Homo sapiens: one gene and its partners. The protein of the gene in region 4 purifies or fractionates together with the protein of the main gene of each other region. This does not show direct contact. Each region holds a gene or a part of one and is shown on either strand. Other genes may lie near its edges.

Region 1 (3,500 bases), on a different chromosome or scaffold from region 4:
GAGACCTTGTTTCAAAAAAAAATAAAAAAAAGAAAAGCTTCAGGGACCGGGAGAGGAGCTGGCCTGGCACATATCAGGTGCTTGGTTAACCTTCACCAGTGCCATCCTTTTCTCTGACACAACACTCACGGTCATCTTAGGAAGAAAATGAAGACGGGGGGCAATACCAGCAGCCGCTCCGCCTGTGAGCGCTCACTGCGAGCTGGGCTCTGCCCAAGGTACTTCCCGGGAAGCACTGCCCAGACTCCGTGCAGCCTCAAGCCACGGTGCCTTTTCCTGCTCTTGTAGCCCTTCCCAGCTGCAGAAGCAGGTCTGAGAGCCCAGTAACTCCCACGGGAAGGGCAAAGCTAACGGGAGGGGCTCCGCCTCGACTGGCCAACCTCGAAGGCTGGAAAGGACCTATCCCTGCAGCTGGGACACTTCCCCAGATGCACCAGGCTCCCCAGCACACCCGCCTCCCCCCGCCCCACCCCTGGCAGCCCTGACTTGTCCTTCCAAGCTTCACCCTCAGTCCACATCCTCAGCGGAGCCACCCCAGGTCCTCCAAGCACTTCCTCCAGACTCAAATTCTGCCCAGCCTTTGAGGCAGCCTTAGATGTGGCCAGTCAGCTTCCCCATGGGACAAGAGACCTGGCCAGGTGCATCTCAACCTGCTGGCCCTAGCCTAGCAGGCACAGCAGGGCAACCTGGGCAAGGGCACCTCTCTCAAGATGGGACCGGAAGGTGGACCAGGCCATGACCTCTCGGTGACCTGGGACTGGGAATGTCCCTCTCTAGACACAGCCTCCTTCTTGATGAAAGGGGGGTGGTCTCACAAATCCTTGCCTAGGAGTGGCTGGGAGGGCAGAAGGAATGACAAATGACAGCTCCTCTGATATGTGGTGTGGACAGGATTTCCTTTGGAGAAGGACAGCCAGGGCCTCGTGAAACTACTCCAGAGAGAACCTAGGTGGCAGGCTCACCTGGGCCCCAGTAGGCCACCCACCGAGCCCAACATAGGGAGCACCAGGGTAGATCCTAAGAAGGCACGTGGGAGCCTGCACTGTGATCAGCAGGCCACCCCACTCCCAGTACGCTTATTCTGAGCACCACAAGCCTCAAAATTCCTTTTTTTTTTTTGAGACAGTCTTGCTCTGTTGCCCAGGCTGGAGTGCAGTAGCACGATCTCGGCTGGCTGCAACCTCTGCCTCCCAGGTTCAAGTGATTCTCCTGTCTCAGCGTCCCAAGTAGCTGGGACTACAGGTGCCCGCCATCACACCCGGCTAATTATTTTGTATTTTTAGTAGAGATGGGGTTTCGCCACATTGGCCAGGCTAGTCTCAAACTCTTGACCTCAAGTGATCCACCTGCCTTGGCCTCCCAAAGTGCTGGGATTACAGGCATGAGCCACCACGCTTGGCCAAGCCTCAACATTTCTGCCATCTCAGAGAACTGCAATAACCCCCACTTCTCAAGGGGTAAGCTGAGGGACACAGGGAAGAAACATTCCAGGCTGATCAGAACCCCCATTCCAGGGCTCCTTATGTACCCCACATTGCCTCACCAACCCCCTCCCACCCCCAAGAGGTCTCAAGATCCTCAGGCCTGGCTCAGAGCCCCCAGGCTAAGGCAGGAAAGCTCTGTGGCTCAGGGCCAGCCTGGGTTCAAGGCCTGGCTTGGCCATTTTCTTCAGATTCTGGAACCTCTGCAAGCCAACTTCCACATCTGTGAGATAGCAGGGCCCCTCTCAAAGGGTGGGGGACTCCACCCAGCTCAGGAGAGATGCCCAGCATAGCGCCCACCCGTGGTAAATGTTACTGCTCAAGCAGCTGCTCCCATGATGATCGTTAACGTGACAACTGTTAGCTCTACCACTGCTCTGTGCTGGGTGAGCTGGGGGCAGGGGCTGGTGGTTTCAAAGGCTGGCCTCTGCAACTGCCCACCTGCCCCATACTCACTGCCCAAAGCAAGCCTTCCTTGCCTGGGCACCTATCAGAGCCATATGGGCACAGAGGCCCCTGCAACCTGAGGTCTGGCAGTGGCACCTCAGGGGACACTTAAACTCTCTGAGGCCTCAGCTTCCCTTGGACAAAACAGGCTCCCAACAACCCAGAAAGGGGGTACTGGGGCCTCTGGTCAGCGAGCGCTCACCCGCAAGGGCCCTGCTGCCCGGCCACACCTGCCCACCGTACCTTGACATAGTAGGTGATGAGGATCTTGCGGAGGTCGAAAACCTGCAGCATGGAGGCAGCATTATTGTCACTAATGCTATAGCCCTCCAGCACGTACTTGCTGGCTGTTACCTCCCAAGCCAGCCAGCGCTGCCCAAAGGCAGCATTGAAGGACAGGACCCGTGGCAGGTGGCCAGGTTCACAGCAGCAACAGCCCTCGTCCTCCTCCACACCCTCGGTGATAGCCTCCACCTCGCGCTGCTGGCAGTAAGTGCCTGTGGAGGAGGGGTGTGCAGTCAGGGGCTGCTAGAACAATCCCTACCTGCCCTGTCCTGGGAGAGTGACCAACATGGCATCAGAGGCCTGCTGCCATTCACCCCCTTGGACGCCAGGGGAGTCAACCTTATTGGATGCCAAGATTCACGAAAGAGCGCCTGCCTTTCTCCTCCCAACTCCCAGCATCCAAGGGCAGGGCGGGAGGGAGCAGGGACACGGTCTGGCCCCTCTGCACTCTCGGGCATCCAACACACACGTCTTCCTGAGAGGAAGGAGCTGGCTCACTCATGGCGCCCAACCCATGGGCCAAGCCTGAGACCACAGAGCAGGCTGGGTGTGAGAACTCAGACCTCCAGGCCCAGGCCCTCACTGCAGTGACCTGTAGAGTCACTGGGACCTAAAGTTGGGGCAGGCACAGGGCTTGGCCAAGAGACCCTGCCACCTCATTGCTCAGACTGGGAAACGCAGGCCCAGGGAGGAGGAGTGCCTTGCCCAAGGCCACCCGCCAGCCTGGACAGAGCTGGACTGGACCTCCTTCGCACGTGCTATTGAACACAGCTCCCACATCAGGCCCGAGCTGTGCCTGCCCACCCGAGCCTGGTCCTGCGGCTCACCCCGGAACTCAAGGCCACGCAGCTGGAAGGTGACGAGGCCATTGCCAACCTCGATGAGGTGCACCAGGGCGTTGAGGTAGTCAGAGGCCAGGACGAAGCAGTCACCAGGGCCATAGTTGCCCCAGCGGCCCAGCACCAGGTCCCCACACAGTGTGTGCTGCAGCGAACGTGTCAAGTGCTCATAGAAGATGGAGTTGAGGTTGTTGTCATCAGCGCCTAAGACCCAGAACAGACGGGCAAATGGACAAAGTGACAAGTTAGCGAGGCTCCCTCCCCAGGGAGGCCCTGCCCTAAAGCCCCTTGGATGGCTGGGTACACACCAGGGTTCCTGTCCAGCTGTGTGACCAGGCGGGTGTTGGAATGATCCACACGTTTAGTGCTGTTCAGAGAGAGTGCAACAAGGCGGTTGGCCAAGAAGGTGAAGAGAGGGTGCACCCTGCTCATGCTCTCCCTGTGCCAC
Region 2 (3,500 bases), on a different chromosome or scaffold from region 4:
GAGGTTGCAGTGAGCCGAGATTGTGTCACTGCACTCCAGCCTGGGTAAAAGAGTGAGAGTGCATCTCAAAAAAAAAAAAAAAAAAAAAAAAAAGAGGAAATCAACCTAAGTTCTCATTTCACTTGGGTAAATACCTAGGAGCGGGAATGTTGGGTCATATGACAAGTATATATTTACCTTCATAAAAAACTGCCAAACGTTTCTCCAAAGTAGCTACACTATTTGCCCTTCCAACAGCAAAGGATGAAAGTTTCCATTGCTCCCATTCTTACCAGCATTTTGTATTGCCGTTTTTTCCTTAGTTTCTCTTAATATCTTAATTTTCACAATAGACATATAGTACTATCTCATTATGGGTTTAATTTGCAATTCCATAATTACTAATGATGTTTAATGCCTTTATTTTTTTTTTTTTTTTTTGAGACAGAGTCTCACTCTGTCGCCCAGGCTGGAATGCAGTGGCACAATCTTGTCTCACTGCAACCTCCACCTCCTGGGTTCAAGTGATTCTCGTGTCTCAGCCTCCTAGGTAGCTGGGATTACAGGCACGTGCCACCACACCTGACCAATTTTGTATTTTTAGTAGAGACGGTTTCGCTATGTTGGCCGGGCTAGTCTTGAACTCCTGACCTCAGATGGTCCACCCACCTCAGCTTCCCAAAGTGCTGGGATTACAGGCATGACCCACCATGCCTGGCCTATGTTTAACACCTTTTGGGGTGTTTATCTGCTGTTCATACACCTTCCTGCATAGTGTCTACTCAAATCTTTTGCTCTTTTTAATTAGGTTGTTTACTTTTTTTAATAGAGATGGGGTCTTGCTATGTTGCCCAAGCTGGTCTCAAACTCCTGGATTTTCAAGCAATCCTCCAGTCTTGGCCTCCCAAAGTGCTGGGATTACAGACGTGAGCCACCATGCCCAGCTTTGAGTTCCTTATACAGTCTATTTTTTGTCAGATATGTGATGGGGAATATTTTCTCCCAGTCTGTGAAGTCTTTTTATTCTCTCAACAGTGTGTTTGGAAGAGCAGAATTTCTTAATTTTGATGAAGTCTAATTTATCAGTTTGTTCATTTATGAATCATGTTCTTGGCATCATGTCCAAGAAATCTCTGCCTGACCCATGGTCAAAAATATTTTTGTCCTATGTTTTCTTTCAAATATTTTATAGCTGTACATTTTACTTCACAATCTATGAACATTTTTTAAAATAGAAACGGGTCTCACTCTTGCCAAGGCTAGTCTCAAACTCCTGGGCTCAAGCAATCCTCCTGCCTCAACCTCCCAAAATGCTGGGATTACAAACGTGTGCGACCAGACCCGGCCTACGAACCATTTTGAACTAATTTTTGCATACAGTGTCAAGTACAGATTGAGGCTCTAATAAAAAGATTTCATTTTGATGTTTGAGTGCAGATTGCCTTCAGGTCCCACACCTCTCTCCCTTTTGTCCCACATCTGGGTAAGTCTGTAAGAAAGCCCAGGTACTCCCTCCCTTGGTATTGGTGTAAAGTTGAAACCATATAAATACCACACTTGGGGACCAGTATTCCCTCCCTTGGTACTGGTGTGAAGTTGAAACCATGTAAATACCACACATGGGGACCATCAAACAAGTTCCACCTTCTGGTCAATAAAAACCAAAGCCACCCACCCTGTTTCACTCTTGCTTCATCCTGGACTAAACCTAAGTCCTTGACCTTGAGGAGTCCTTTTGCTGTTTACTGTGTGATTAAACTTTATTTCATATCCACTGGTGGATTCATGTCACTTGTCCCAATATTCACATAAATTCCTGGGCAAGGGACTGCCCAGTGTCCAACAGTGGATACTTGGTGCCCAAATAAAACAAAGATTGTTTTTTCTTTGCATATGAATATTCAACTGTTCCAGACTATCCTCTGTTGAACTGCCCTTAAACTTTTTCAAAATGAATTGACAATTTTTGTGTGACTAAATTCTCTATTTTGTTCAATTGATCTGTATGTCTATCTTTTCTCCAATACCACAGTCTTGGTTATTGCAGCTTTAAACTAAGTTGAAATCAGGTAGTATGAATCTTCCAACTTTGTTATTCTTTTTCAAAATTGTTTTAGCTTTTCTAGTTCCTTTGGTTTTCCATATTAATTTTAGAATCGGCTCATTAATTTCTATAAGAAATCCTCTGAGATTTGGACTAGAAATGTGCTGAATCTATAAATCAGTTTGAGAAGAGTAGGTATCTTAATACTGAGTCTTCTAATCCATGAACATGATATAATCAGTGTTTCATAATTTTCAACATACAAATATTACACACCATTTGAAAAGTTAATACTTAAGTATTTCATGGTTTTTAGTGCTAATGAGATGGGAATTTTTCACTTTAGTTTCTAATTGTTCATTATTAGTATATAGAAATACAATTTACTGTTGTATATTGACCTTCTAAGCTACAACTCTGCTGAATTAACCTATTCACTAGAGCTTTTTTGAAGAGTCACAGACATGTTGTCTGTGAATAGAAACTGCTCTTTGAAGCACACTGTTTAAAGAATGAAGACAAGCCAACAACTGGGAAAAAATATTTCCCTATCACATCTAGCTATTGCACTCCTAGGCATTAATATAAGAGAAAAGAAAGCATATCTCTCTCCAACAACTTGTACATGAATGCTCATAGCAGCTTTATTCATAATAGTCAAAAAGTGAAAACAATCCAAATGTCCATCAAAGGGTAAATGGGTTAAAAAAAATCATGGTATATTCATAAAATAAAATACTATTCAACAATAAAAAACTATGAACACATAACAACATGGATGAATCTCAAATTATGCTGAGTGTAAGGAGATTCCCCGTGCTAAAAAAAAAAAAAAAAAGCGTATATACAATTCCATTTTTATAAAATTCTAGAAAATAAAAACTAATCTTAAGCAACAGAAAGGAAACAATGGTTTCCTAGGGATACAGAGAGGGTAGTAAGGAGCAAAAGAAGGGATTACAAAAAGTCATAAGGATACTGCCGATGCCCCGGCTAGAGTGCAGTAGCGTGATCTTGGCTCACCGCAGCCTTAATCTCCAGGCTTTGGGTGAGTCTCCCACCTCAGTCTCCCAAGTAGCGGGGACTGCAGGCACACAACACCACACCTGGCTTTTTAATTTTTTTGTAGAGACAGGGTTTTACCATGTTGCGCAGGCTGGTCTTGAACTTCTGGGCTCAAGCAGTCCTCCTGCCTCGGCCCCCCAGAGTGTTGGGATTACAGGTGTGAGCCACTGCGCCTGGCCAAGTATACTCTTTTTTGAGACAGAGACTCATTTCGGTCACCAGGCTGGAGTACAGTAGCACAATCACAGTTCATTGAAGACTCAACCTCCCCAGCTCAAGCAATCCTCCTGCCTCGGCCTCCCAAGTAGCTAGGATTACAGGCAGGCACCATCACACCCAGCTAATGTTATTTTATTTTGTGTAGAGATGAAGTCTTTCTATGTCGCCCAGGCTGGTCTGGAACTCCTGGGCT
Region 3 (3,500 bases), on a different chromosome or scaffold from region 4:
AAGCTCTTGGCAAGGTATTCTTAGCCTCCTCACACCTAACCACTCTTGTGCTGTGGGAAGGTCACCAAAAGAAGCAGAAGAGTCAGCAGCAAGAACAAAGGCAAATACAGACTTTTCGAATATGTTCCCTTAATATACTGTAGCCAGTAATGAACTTCATTTAAACCTAGCTTGGTTTATACTTAACCCGTTTTATATTTCCTGAGCTTGGTGTCAAAGTAATCACGTTACCCCTGCATAATTTAGGTCTCAGAAAGGAAGCATGACAATTCTAAGAAATACAGAAATCCAAAGAACAAAGAGGTTAAGAGGTCTTCTATGACAATATTTATAAGATAGGCTGCCTGTCTCCTGGAAACTTGGAAATGTTAAATTTGATCATCCCCCACCATAGTAAAAGATGACAGTGCAAATAAATTCCAGCCTTCTTAGAACCACCAATTTTCACTTTGGTAAGGAAAAAAACACTTCCAGGTGAAGAGTTTGCTCCACTAAAATTCACTACTTTAGAATAGTGTACTTTTTTCAATTGAAAAATAAAAACAATTTAAAACACCATTATGACTATGGTATAATCCCAAGACCTCACTGTACAGGCTTCTCACTCTGGCTTATTTCTATAATGCTGGTGATAAGATTAGGCTCCATCAAGAAAGCTGTTTAAAACAAAACACTGCAATGTAGGGGGATCGCGGGGAGAGGCAATCACCTTCAAAAAGAGTAAGCACTTAGTGCCTGCCATCTGCATGCATAATAACTTGCTGAACAATGGAATCCTTAAATATACATCTTTTTACACTTCAGGGGCAACAAGTCAGGCATTCACTAACAAGTGGAGGAACCATGTGCGCTAGAACTAGAGTGTGCTATAAAATTGATTACTTGGTTCCAAAATTTATTTTTAAGATTCCCCTTTTCCACCCCTGGGAACCCTTCTGTGCAGCCTCCCTGCCATGTCCCTGGAGCTCAGGGATCTTCGGGCTCTTTCCTGACACTTTCTGAAAGAATACGCGGCATTGTCACGTTTGGGTTAGAGTTGGAAAGATGCTCAGTCTCTTCCATCAACTGGGTCAGTGGAAGCCCGAGTCCAATTTAACTGTCACAGAATCTGGGTTGTAGGGGATACTCAGAGAGACAGATCTGAAAACTGGGACAGATCTGGGAACTTCTGCTCTCAGTGCACAGAGATGTTGGGCAAGGGTAGGGGGGATATCCTTTGAGTGACTGTGATAGATAATAAATAGCTGTTGGACACTGGATTTTTTTTCCTGTCATATAATTTCTGACCAATTTTACTAAACTTCAAATATGATTTATTTTTTTGAGACAGAATCTCACTCTGTCACCCAGGCTGGAGTGCAGTGGTACCATCTTGGCTCACTGCAACCTCTGCCTCCTGGGTTCAAGTGATTCTTCCGCCTCAGCCTCCCAAGTAGTTGGGATTACAGGCATGCACCACCATACCTGGCTAATTTTTGTATTTTTAGTAGAGATGGGGTTGTGCCATGTTGGCCAGGTTGGTACCAAACTCCTGACCTCAAGTGATCCGCCTGCCTCAGCCTCCCAAAGCGCTGGGATTATAGGCGTGAGCCACCATACCCGGCTGAAATATGATTTAAATGGCATTTTTTCCAAATACAGCTATACAATTACCTACACAGGCCATACAAAGTAGAGTTTAATACAGAACTACCTATAACTACCTATGCCTCCATCGCTAAGAAATAAATAATCCAATCACCTGAGAATTCAGATGACCTTTCACTTTCTCACACCCAGAGTGTGCCATTACTCTTTTCCTGATTACCTTTGCTCCCTTCTATGTGCTGAGCAGACTAGAATGGCTCCCCAGAAGAACCCTAAAACTCTTCCTACTTCAGATATGTCACAATCTGCCATGGTGCCTTTGGCCTTGATGACCTTCAATTTTAAGAAAACATTTATTTACAAATAGGTGCTACTAAGGTTTTGTTCTCAAGTCACACCTGTAATCCCAGCACTTTGGGAGGCTGAGGTGGGCGGATCACTTGAGGTCAGGAGTTTGAGACCAGCCTGGCCAACATGGTAAAATCTCGTCTCTACTAAAAATACAAAAATCAACCAGGTGTGGTGGCATGCACCTGTAGTCCCAACTACTCGGGAGGCTTAGGCACGAGAATCACTTGATCCGGGGAGGTGGAGGTTACAGTAAGCTGAGATCAAGCCACTGCACTTCAGCCTGGGCGACAAAGTGAGATTCTGTCTCAAAAATAAATAAATAAATAAAATAAAATAGAGCGTTTTTTTTTCCCTCCTTATCACCTTCCTCTGTATCTAGGTCCTATTGTTATTAAAAATAAATATGACATTTTTATGAATCTCCAACACAGAAATCATATATAGTTCTAATTCTAATAGAAACAAACTTGAATTTAACACGTTTAAGACATTATACCCTACAGATTTAAACTATTATTTGAGTTCCCAATCAGCAAGAAAGCTTCACCACCGCCCTCCTCACTAAGCAGTTCTAAAATGAGTTGTTTTTAAGCAATAGCAGAGCTGGGGCTAGGATTAGGGCTAAGCAAGGGGCAACATTTATAACTGTAGCAAATGGCAGGACCTAAAGGCACTTAAAAGTCATTCTTGGATTATCTATATTTACTAAGAATGAGAGAACAACAAAAAACCCTACACTAAACAAAACCCATAAATCCTTATATATGAGAAAAGGTATCAACATACACCTCAGAATTCATACAAACAAACAAACAAAGCACGTGAAAAATAATGCTGAAGTATCCAGTAAGTCCATAAAGTTGCAAGTATTTTCACTACTTAATTTTTTCTTGGTTTGGTCATATTTAAACAGCAAGAAAATTCTTGTAAGTTTCAAGTCCCTTCTTTAAGTTATTAAAAATAAATATCAGAAAATTCTGGGTCAATGCTTGAACTCTAGTTTTGAATGTTATTTACTACTTCTATCTTAGAGTTAATTGCTAAAACTTTTACCTTAAAATGCAATTTTTAAAGCTCTCATTACCAACCCACTACTTCTGCATAGTCCCTAAATCCTACCAAAACAAGGCAGTATAATTACAAAAAGTAAACAAGCACATTTCTTTTGGTAAACAGCTGAGTATGCTATTTTACTGCTGTTCAGAAATAATCATTAAGTTTGTGTGGCCTGTACATTTACTTTATATATTGTAAATATAAACTCTGTTATTCTAACATCACCAAATTATTTACATTCAAGAAAAATTCTCTATCTAATTGTTATTAATTAGGGGAAGATATTTTAAATAATTCTGACAAGATAAGAGAGACTAAACAATAAAAAGGCAACCCAATTATAAAATGGGCAAATGATTTGAACAGACATTTCTCCAAAGAAGATATACAAAAGGCCAGTAGACACAAAATGCTCAACATCATTAAGTCAGCAGGAAAACGCAAATCAAAACCAAGACTCAATACCACTTCATGCTTACTAGGATGGCTATAATAAAAAAGACAGA
Region 4 (3,500 bases):
ACGCCAACCACCCCAGGTTCTCTGAACCCCGGCAGCTACCTCCCCAGTCCTCCCCGGGTCTCCACCTGTGCCCCCGATCCCTGACGCCCAGGCTCACCTGCCCGGTTGATCTCAATCACCTCCTCCTGAGCCAACGGGCAAGGCTCGCCGGGGGCTGGCAGAGGAGGCAGCCCCATGATCCCCAGCCCACCCGCTCCCCCCCTGAGCAGCCCGGGGTGCGTGTGGGGCCCCGCTGGGTAGGCCCCGGCCACAGTCACCCCCATGGAGGGTGGGGTGATGGGTGGCGGCGGGCTGATGCCCCCGCTGCCGTGGTGCGGGTGGGGCGGGGGTGGCGGGGGTGGGTCAGGCTTGCAGTAGTTGGGCGAGCCCGGTTGCGGGGGCCGGGGGATGTGTTTGTTCTTCTTCTTGGGCAGCTTCTGCTTGGCCATGGCCAGCGAATAGTACATGCCAAAGTTGTTGACAATGACGGGCACAGGCATGGCGATGGTCAGCACCCCCGCCAGGGCACACAGCGCCCCGACCAGCATCCCCGACCACGTCTTGGGGTACATGTCTCCATAGCCCAGGGTCGTCATGGTGACCACAGCCCACCAGAAGCCAATGGGGATGTTCTTGAAGTAGGTGTGGTTGGAGCCCAGGATGTCATCGGGGTCGGCGCCAATGCGCTCAGCGTAGTAAATCATGGTGGCGAAGATGAGCACCCCCAGGGCCAGGAAGATGATGAGCAGCAGGAACTCGTTGGTGCTGGCGCGGAGCGTGTGTCCCAGCACGCGCAGCCCCACGAAGTGCCGGGTCAGCTTGAAGATGCGCAGGATGCGGACGAAGCGGACCACCCGCAGGAAGCCCAGCACGTCTTTGGCGGCCTTGGAGCTGAGGCCCGAGAGGCCCACCTCGAGATAGAAGGGCAGGATGGCCACACAGTCGATGATGTTGAGGCTGCTTTTAAGAAACTCCACCTTGTCTGGGCAGAAGGTGATGCGCATGAGGAACTCGAAGGTGAACCAGACCACGCACACCCCCTCCACGTAGGTCAGGAAGGGCTCCGTCTCCACCTCCACGTTGGTGATGTTCTCCGGAGGTGCCCCGGGGATCGGGGAGGCCTGGGTCACCGTCTTGTTGCTAATATGGATGAAGCCCTCATGGGTTTCCAGGCAGAAGGTGGTGATGGAGATGAGGATGAAGAAGAGGGAGGCGAAGGCCACATACTGCAGGGCAGGGAGGGAGAGAGAGGGGGAGAGGTGACCTAGGCATCAGGTTGGCCATAACATCCAGAAGACCCTTCCAGTGCCCCCTTCCCCAGCCTCCTGGGCCCAAACTCTGGGCAAAATCCAGGTGTCTCAGCCCTGTGGCTCCATCACTTCCAGAATCCCATTCTCCCCTCTAAAGCTAGCAAAAAGGGAGAGAAAGGAACAGAGGCAGTTGGAGAAGAGCTGGCCCCAGCAGACGCAGCAGATGGGCAGCTTCTTTCCTTGGAAACATTTCTGGCCCCTTGCTGTTTCCTAGACCACCTCCCCCCACCCTCCTGTTCCCTGTGTCCTATTTCAGGGCCCCCCAGCAGGGTCCACGGGTTCTGCTGTGGGACGGGAGCCGCCAGGCCTAAGATCACACATCCTGTGTGTCTCGGAGGCTTTAGGGCTCAGCTTGGAGCTGGGCAGACGGGAAGGGAGAAGGCGGGCAGGGAGGCAGAATCGTGAGGTGGTTAAGAGTCGGCGAGCCTGGGCATGAATCTGGCTTTTAACCTGTCAAAACTGGGCAAGGAGACTGAGCTTTCTGAACCAGAAGTTTGTAGTGGGATTGTTGTGAGGATTAAATTAGATGAGCGTACGAAGGACTTGGCTCCAAACACAGTGCTTGGAGCAGTGCCTGGAACACAGTAAGAAGACCTGAGCTGTTGTTAGGGTATGCAGGCAGCAGTTAGTTGGGGGGCAAGGTCAAGGCCTCACCCAGAGAGGACAGGGCAGTGGTGGTGCCACAGAGGGGAGGTGGGGGTCCGGGCCCTTAAGGGAGGAGGGGTTGAAGGGTTAAGCCTGCAAAAATGGAAGAGGAGATAAAAGAGGAGAGTCAGGCAGGGTTTAGGGCCCTGAAGAGGAAGGAGAGTCACTGGCCTGGACATTGTGGGAAAAGGCAGAGCCAGGGCCAAAGAGAAGTTAGGGCATTTGCCAAAGGGGCAGAGAATGAGGGGTGAAGGGTCCTGAGCCATTTCAAGATGGGGGATAACCAGAGTCCTGCCACACAGTGATGTGGGTTTTGATGAAGGCCTAGAAGAGGAGGGAGTGGGGTCAGGGTCTTGGAGAAGGAAAGCAATGGGCCAGGCCCCTAGAGATGTCATGGGCTTTATCAGATATGCAGAGGGGTGGGAGGGGAGAGGAGTGCATTGGAGAGGGAAGGAAGACAGGTGTTATAGTAAAGAGAGGGTTTTAATCCTGCGGGTAGTGGAGGAGGGAGGGCATGGGGAGTTTTGCTATTAATCAGGGGCACAGAGCACGGGGAGGCCACTGCTGGACCACAGAGAGGACCTTGGACTTTGGGGTGGGCCAAGGGCCAGCACTGTCCCTCTGTGCACCCCCCTTCCTCCACAGGGGTTGGGCTCTGGGCTTGACTTCACTGAGGTGCAGAGCTGGGAAGTAGTGGGTGGAGAGTTTCGGGGCCACAGAGAGGACCCTGGACGTTGGGGTGGGCTGGGGGCCGGCGCAGGTCCTCTCTGAACTCCCCCCCCACCCCCACCTTCGCTTCTCTGCAGTGGTTTAAGAGGCCAGAGGCCTTCGCAGAGCGCATGCCTAGTTCCCCGCCCCCTCCGAGCCGGGCGCGCGGCGCTAGCTGCGGCACCGCAGTGGGGGCGGGCCAGCCGGGCCGGGGGGCGGGGCGCACGGCGGCCAGTACCGCGGACAGCTCCCCCGCCGCAGTGCGCAGCCGCAGCGGCTAGGGGCCGTCTTAACCCCTTCCGGGCCGGAGCCTATTCAACGCGCAGCCGCAGTGTTGCTGCTTTCCGGCGGGAGGCCAAGGGCCAAGAGTCTAATTAACTCCTTCCCTCCCAGGGCACAGGGAAAGGTGGGCACCCGCCGCAGTGCGCAGCTGCAGAGGCTGGACGGCGTCGGGCTGGTTTAACCCCTTACTCCAGAGTGTGTCAAAAGCAGAAGGGGTAGGAGGGCATGGAGTCTCTGTAAGAAGGAAAGGAGTGATTACGAGGAAGGGGGCGGGGGCAGGGGGCTGTAGGGTCGGACCCTCCACTTTGCTTTGGCCTCAGCTCCCAACTCTCTCAAGCCATATCACTGGGAGGCTGGAAAGGGCTCGGCACACCTTGGACACCCAAAACACATTGGCGGAGTAAATGAGTATCTCCCGTAGCTGTCCCGAACACCTAGCCTGACCATCACAGAAGAACTCTAACTTCATCCCGCTCCTCATCTCAGCACCCTTCAATGGGGTCACAGGAGAGAAGGGCGCCCCGGCCATGGGGGAAGGAGCCGCTCAGTGTCTTGAGGGGGCATCCAGGGCCATGT

The links. Proteins that work in one complex are often made in the same cells at the same time.
Region 1: the proteins of KCNC3 (region 4) and PCNX3 purify together in Homo sapiens (affinity purification with mass spectrometry; one large-scale study listed by BioGRID and IntAct). This does not show direct contact.
Region 2: the proteins of KCNC3 (region 4) and P4HA1 purify together in Homo sapiens (affinity purification with mass spectrometry; one large-scale study listed by BioGRID and IntAct). This does not show direct contact.
Region 3: the proteins of KCNC3 (region 4) and NDFIP1 purify together in Homo sapiens (affinity purification with mass spectrometry; one large-scale study listed by BioGRID and IntAct). This does not show direct contact.

What each region holds. Positions count from the first base shown.
Region 1 is NC_000011.10:65,629,276-65,632,775, reverse strand, and holds part of PCNX3 (pecanex-like protein 3), read right to left. Parts: intron 3,420-3,500; coding exon 3,361-3,419; intron 3,257-3,360; coding exon 3,041-3,256; intron 2,426-3,040; coding exon 2,172-2,425; intron 1-2,171.
Region 2 is NC_000010.11:73,086,867-73,090,366, forward strand, and holds part of P4HA1 (prolyl 4-hydroxylase subunit alpha-1 isoform 2 precursor), read right to left. Parts: intron 1-3,500. UniProt on the Homo sapiens protein: Catalyzes the post-translational formation of 4-hydroxyproline in -Xaa-Pro-Gly- sequences in collagens and other proteins.
Region 3 is NC_000005.10:142,125,779-142,129,278, reverse strand, and holds part of NDFIP1 (NEDD4 family-interacting protein 1), read right to left. Parts: intron 1-3,500. UniProt on the Homo sapiens protein: Activates HECT domain-containing E3 ubiquitin-protein ligases, including NEDD4 and ITCH, and consequently modulates the stability of their targets. As a result, controls many cellular processes.
Region 4 is NC_000019.10:50,322,878-50,326,377, forward strand, and holds part of KCNC3 (voltage-gated potassium channel KCNC3), read right to left. Parts: intron 1,206-3,500; coding exon 98-1,205; intron 1-97. UniProt on the Homo sapiens protein: Voltage-gated potassium channel that plays an important role in the rapid repolarization of fast-firing brain neurons.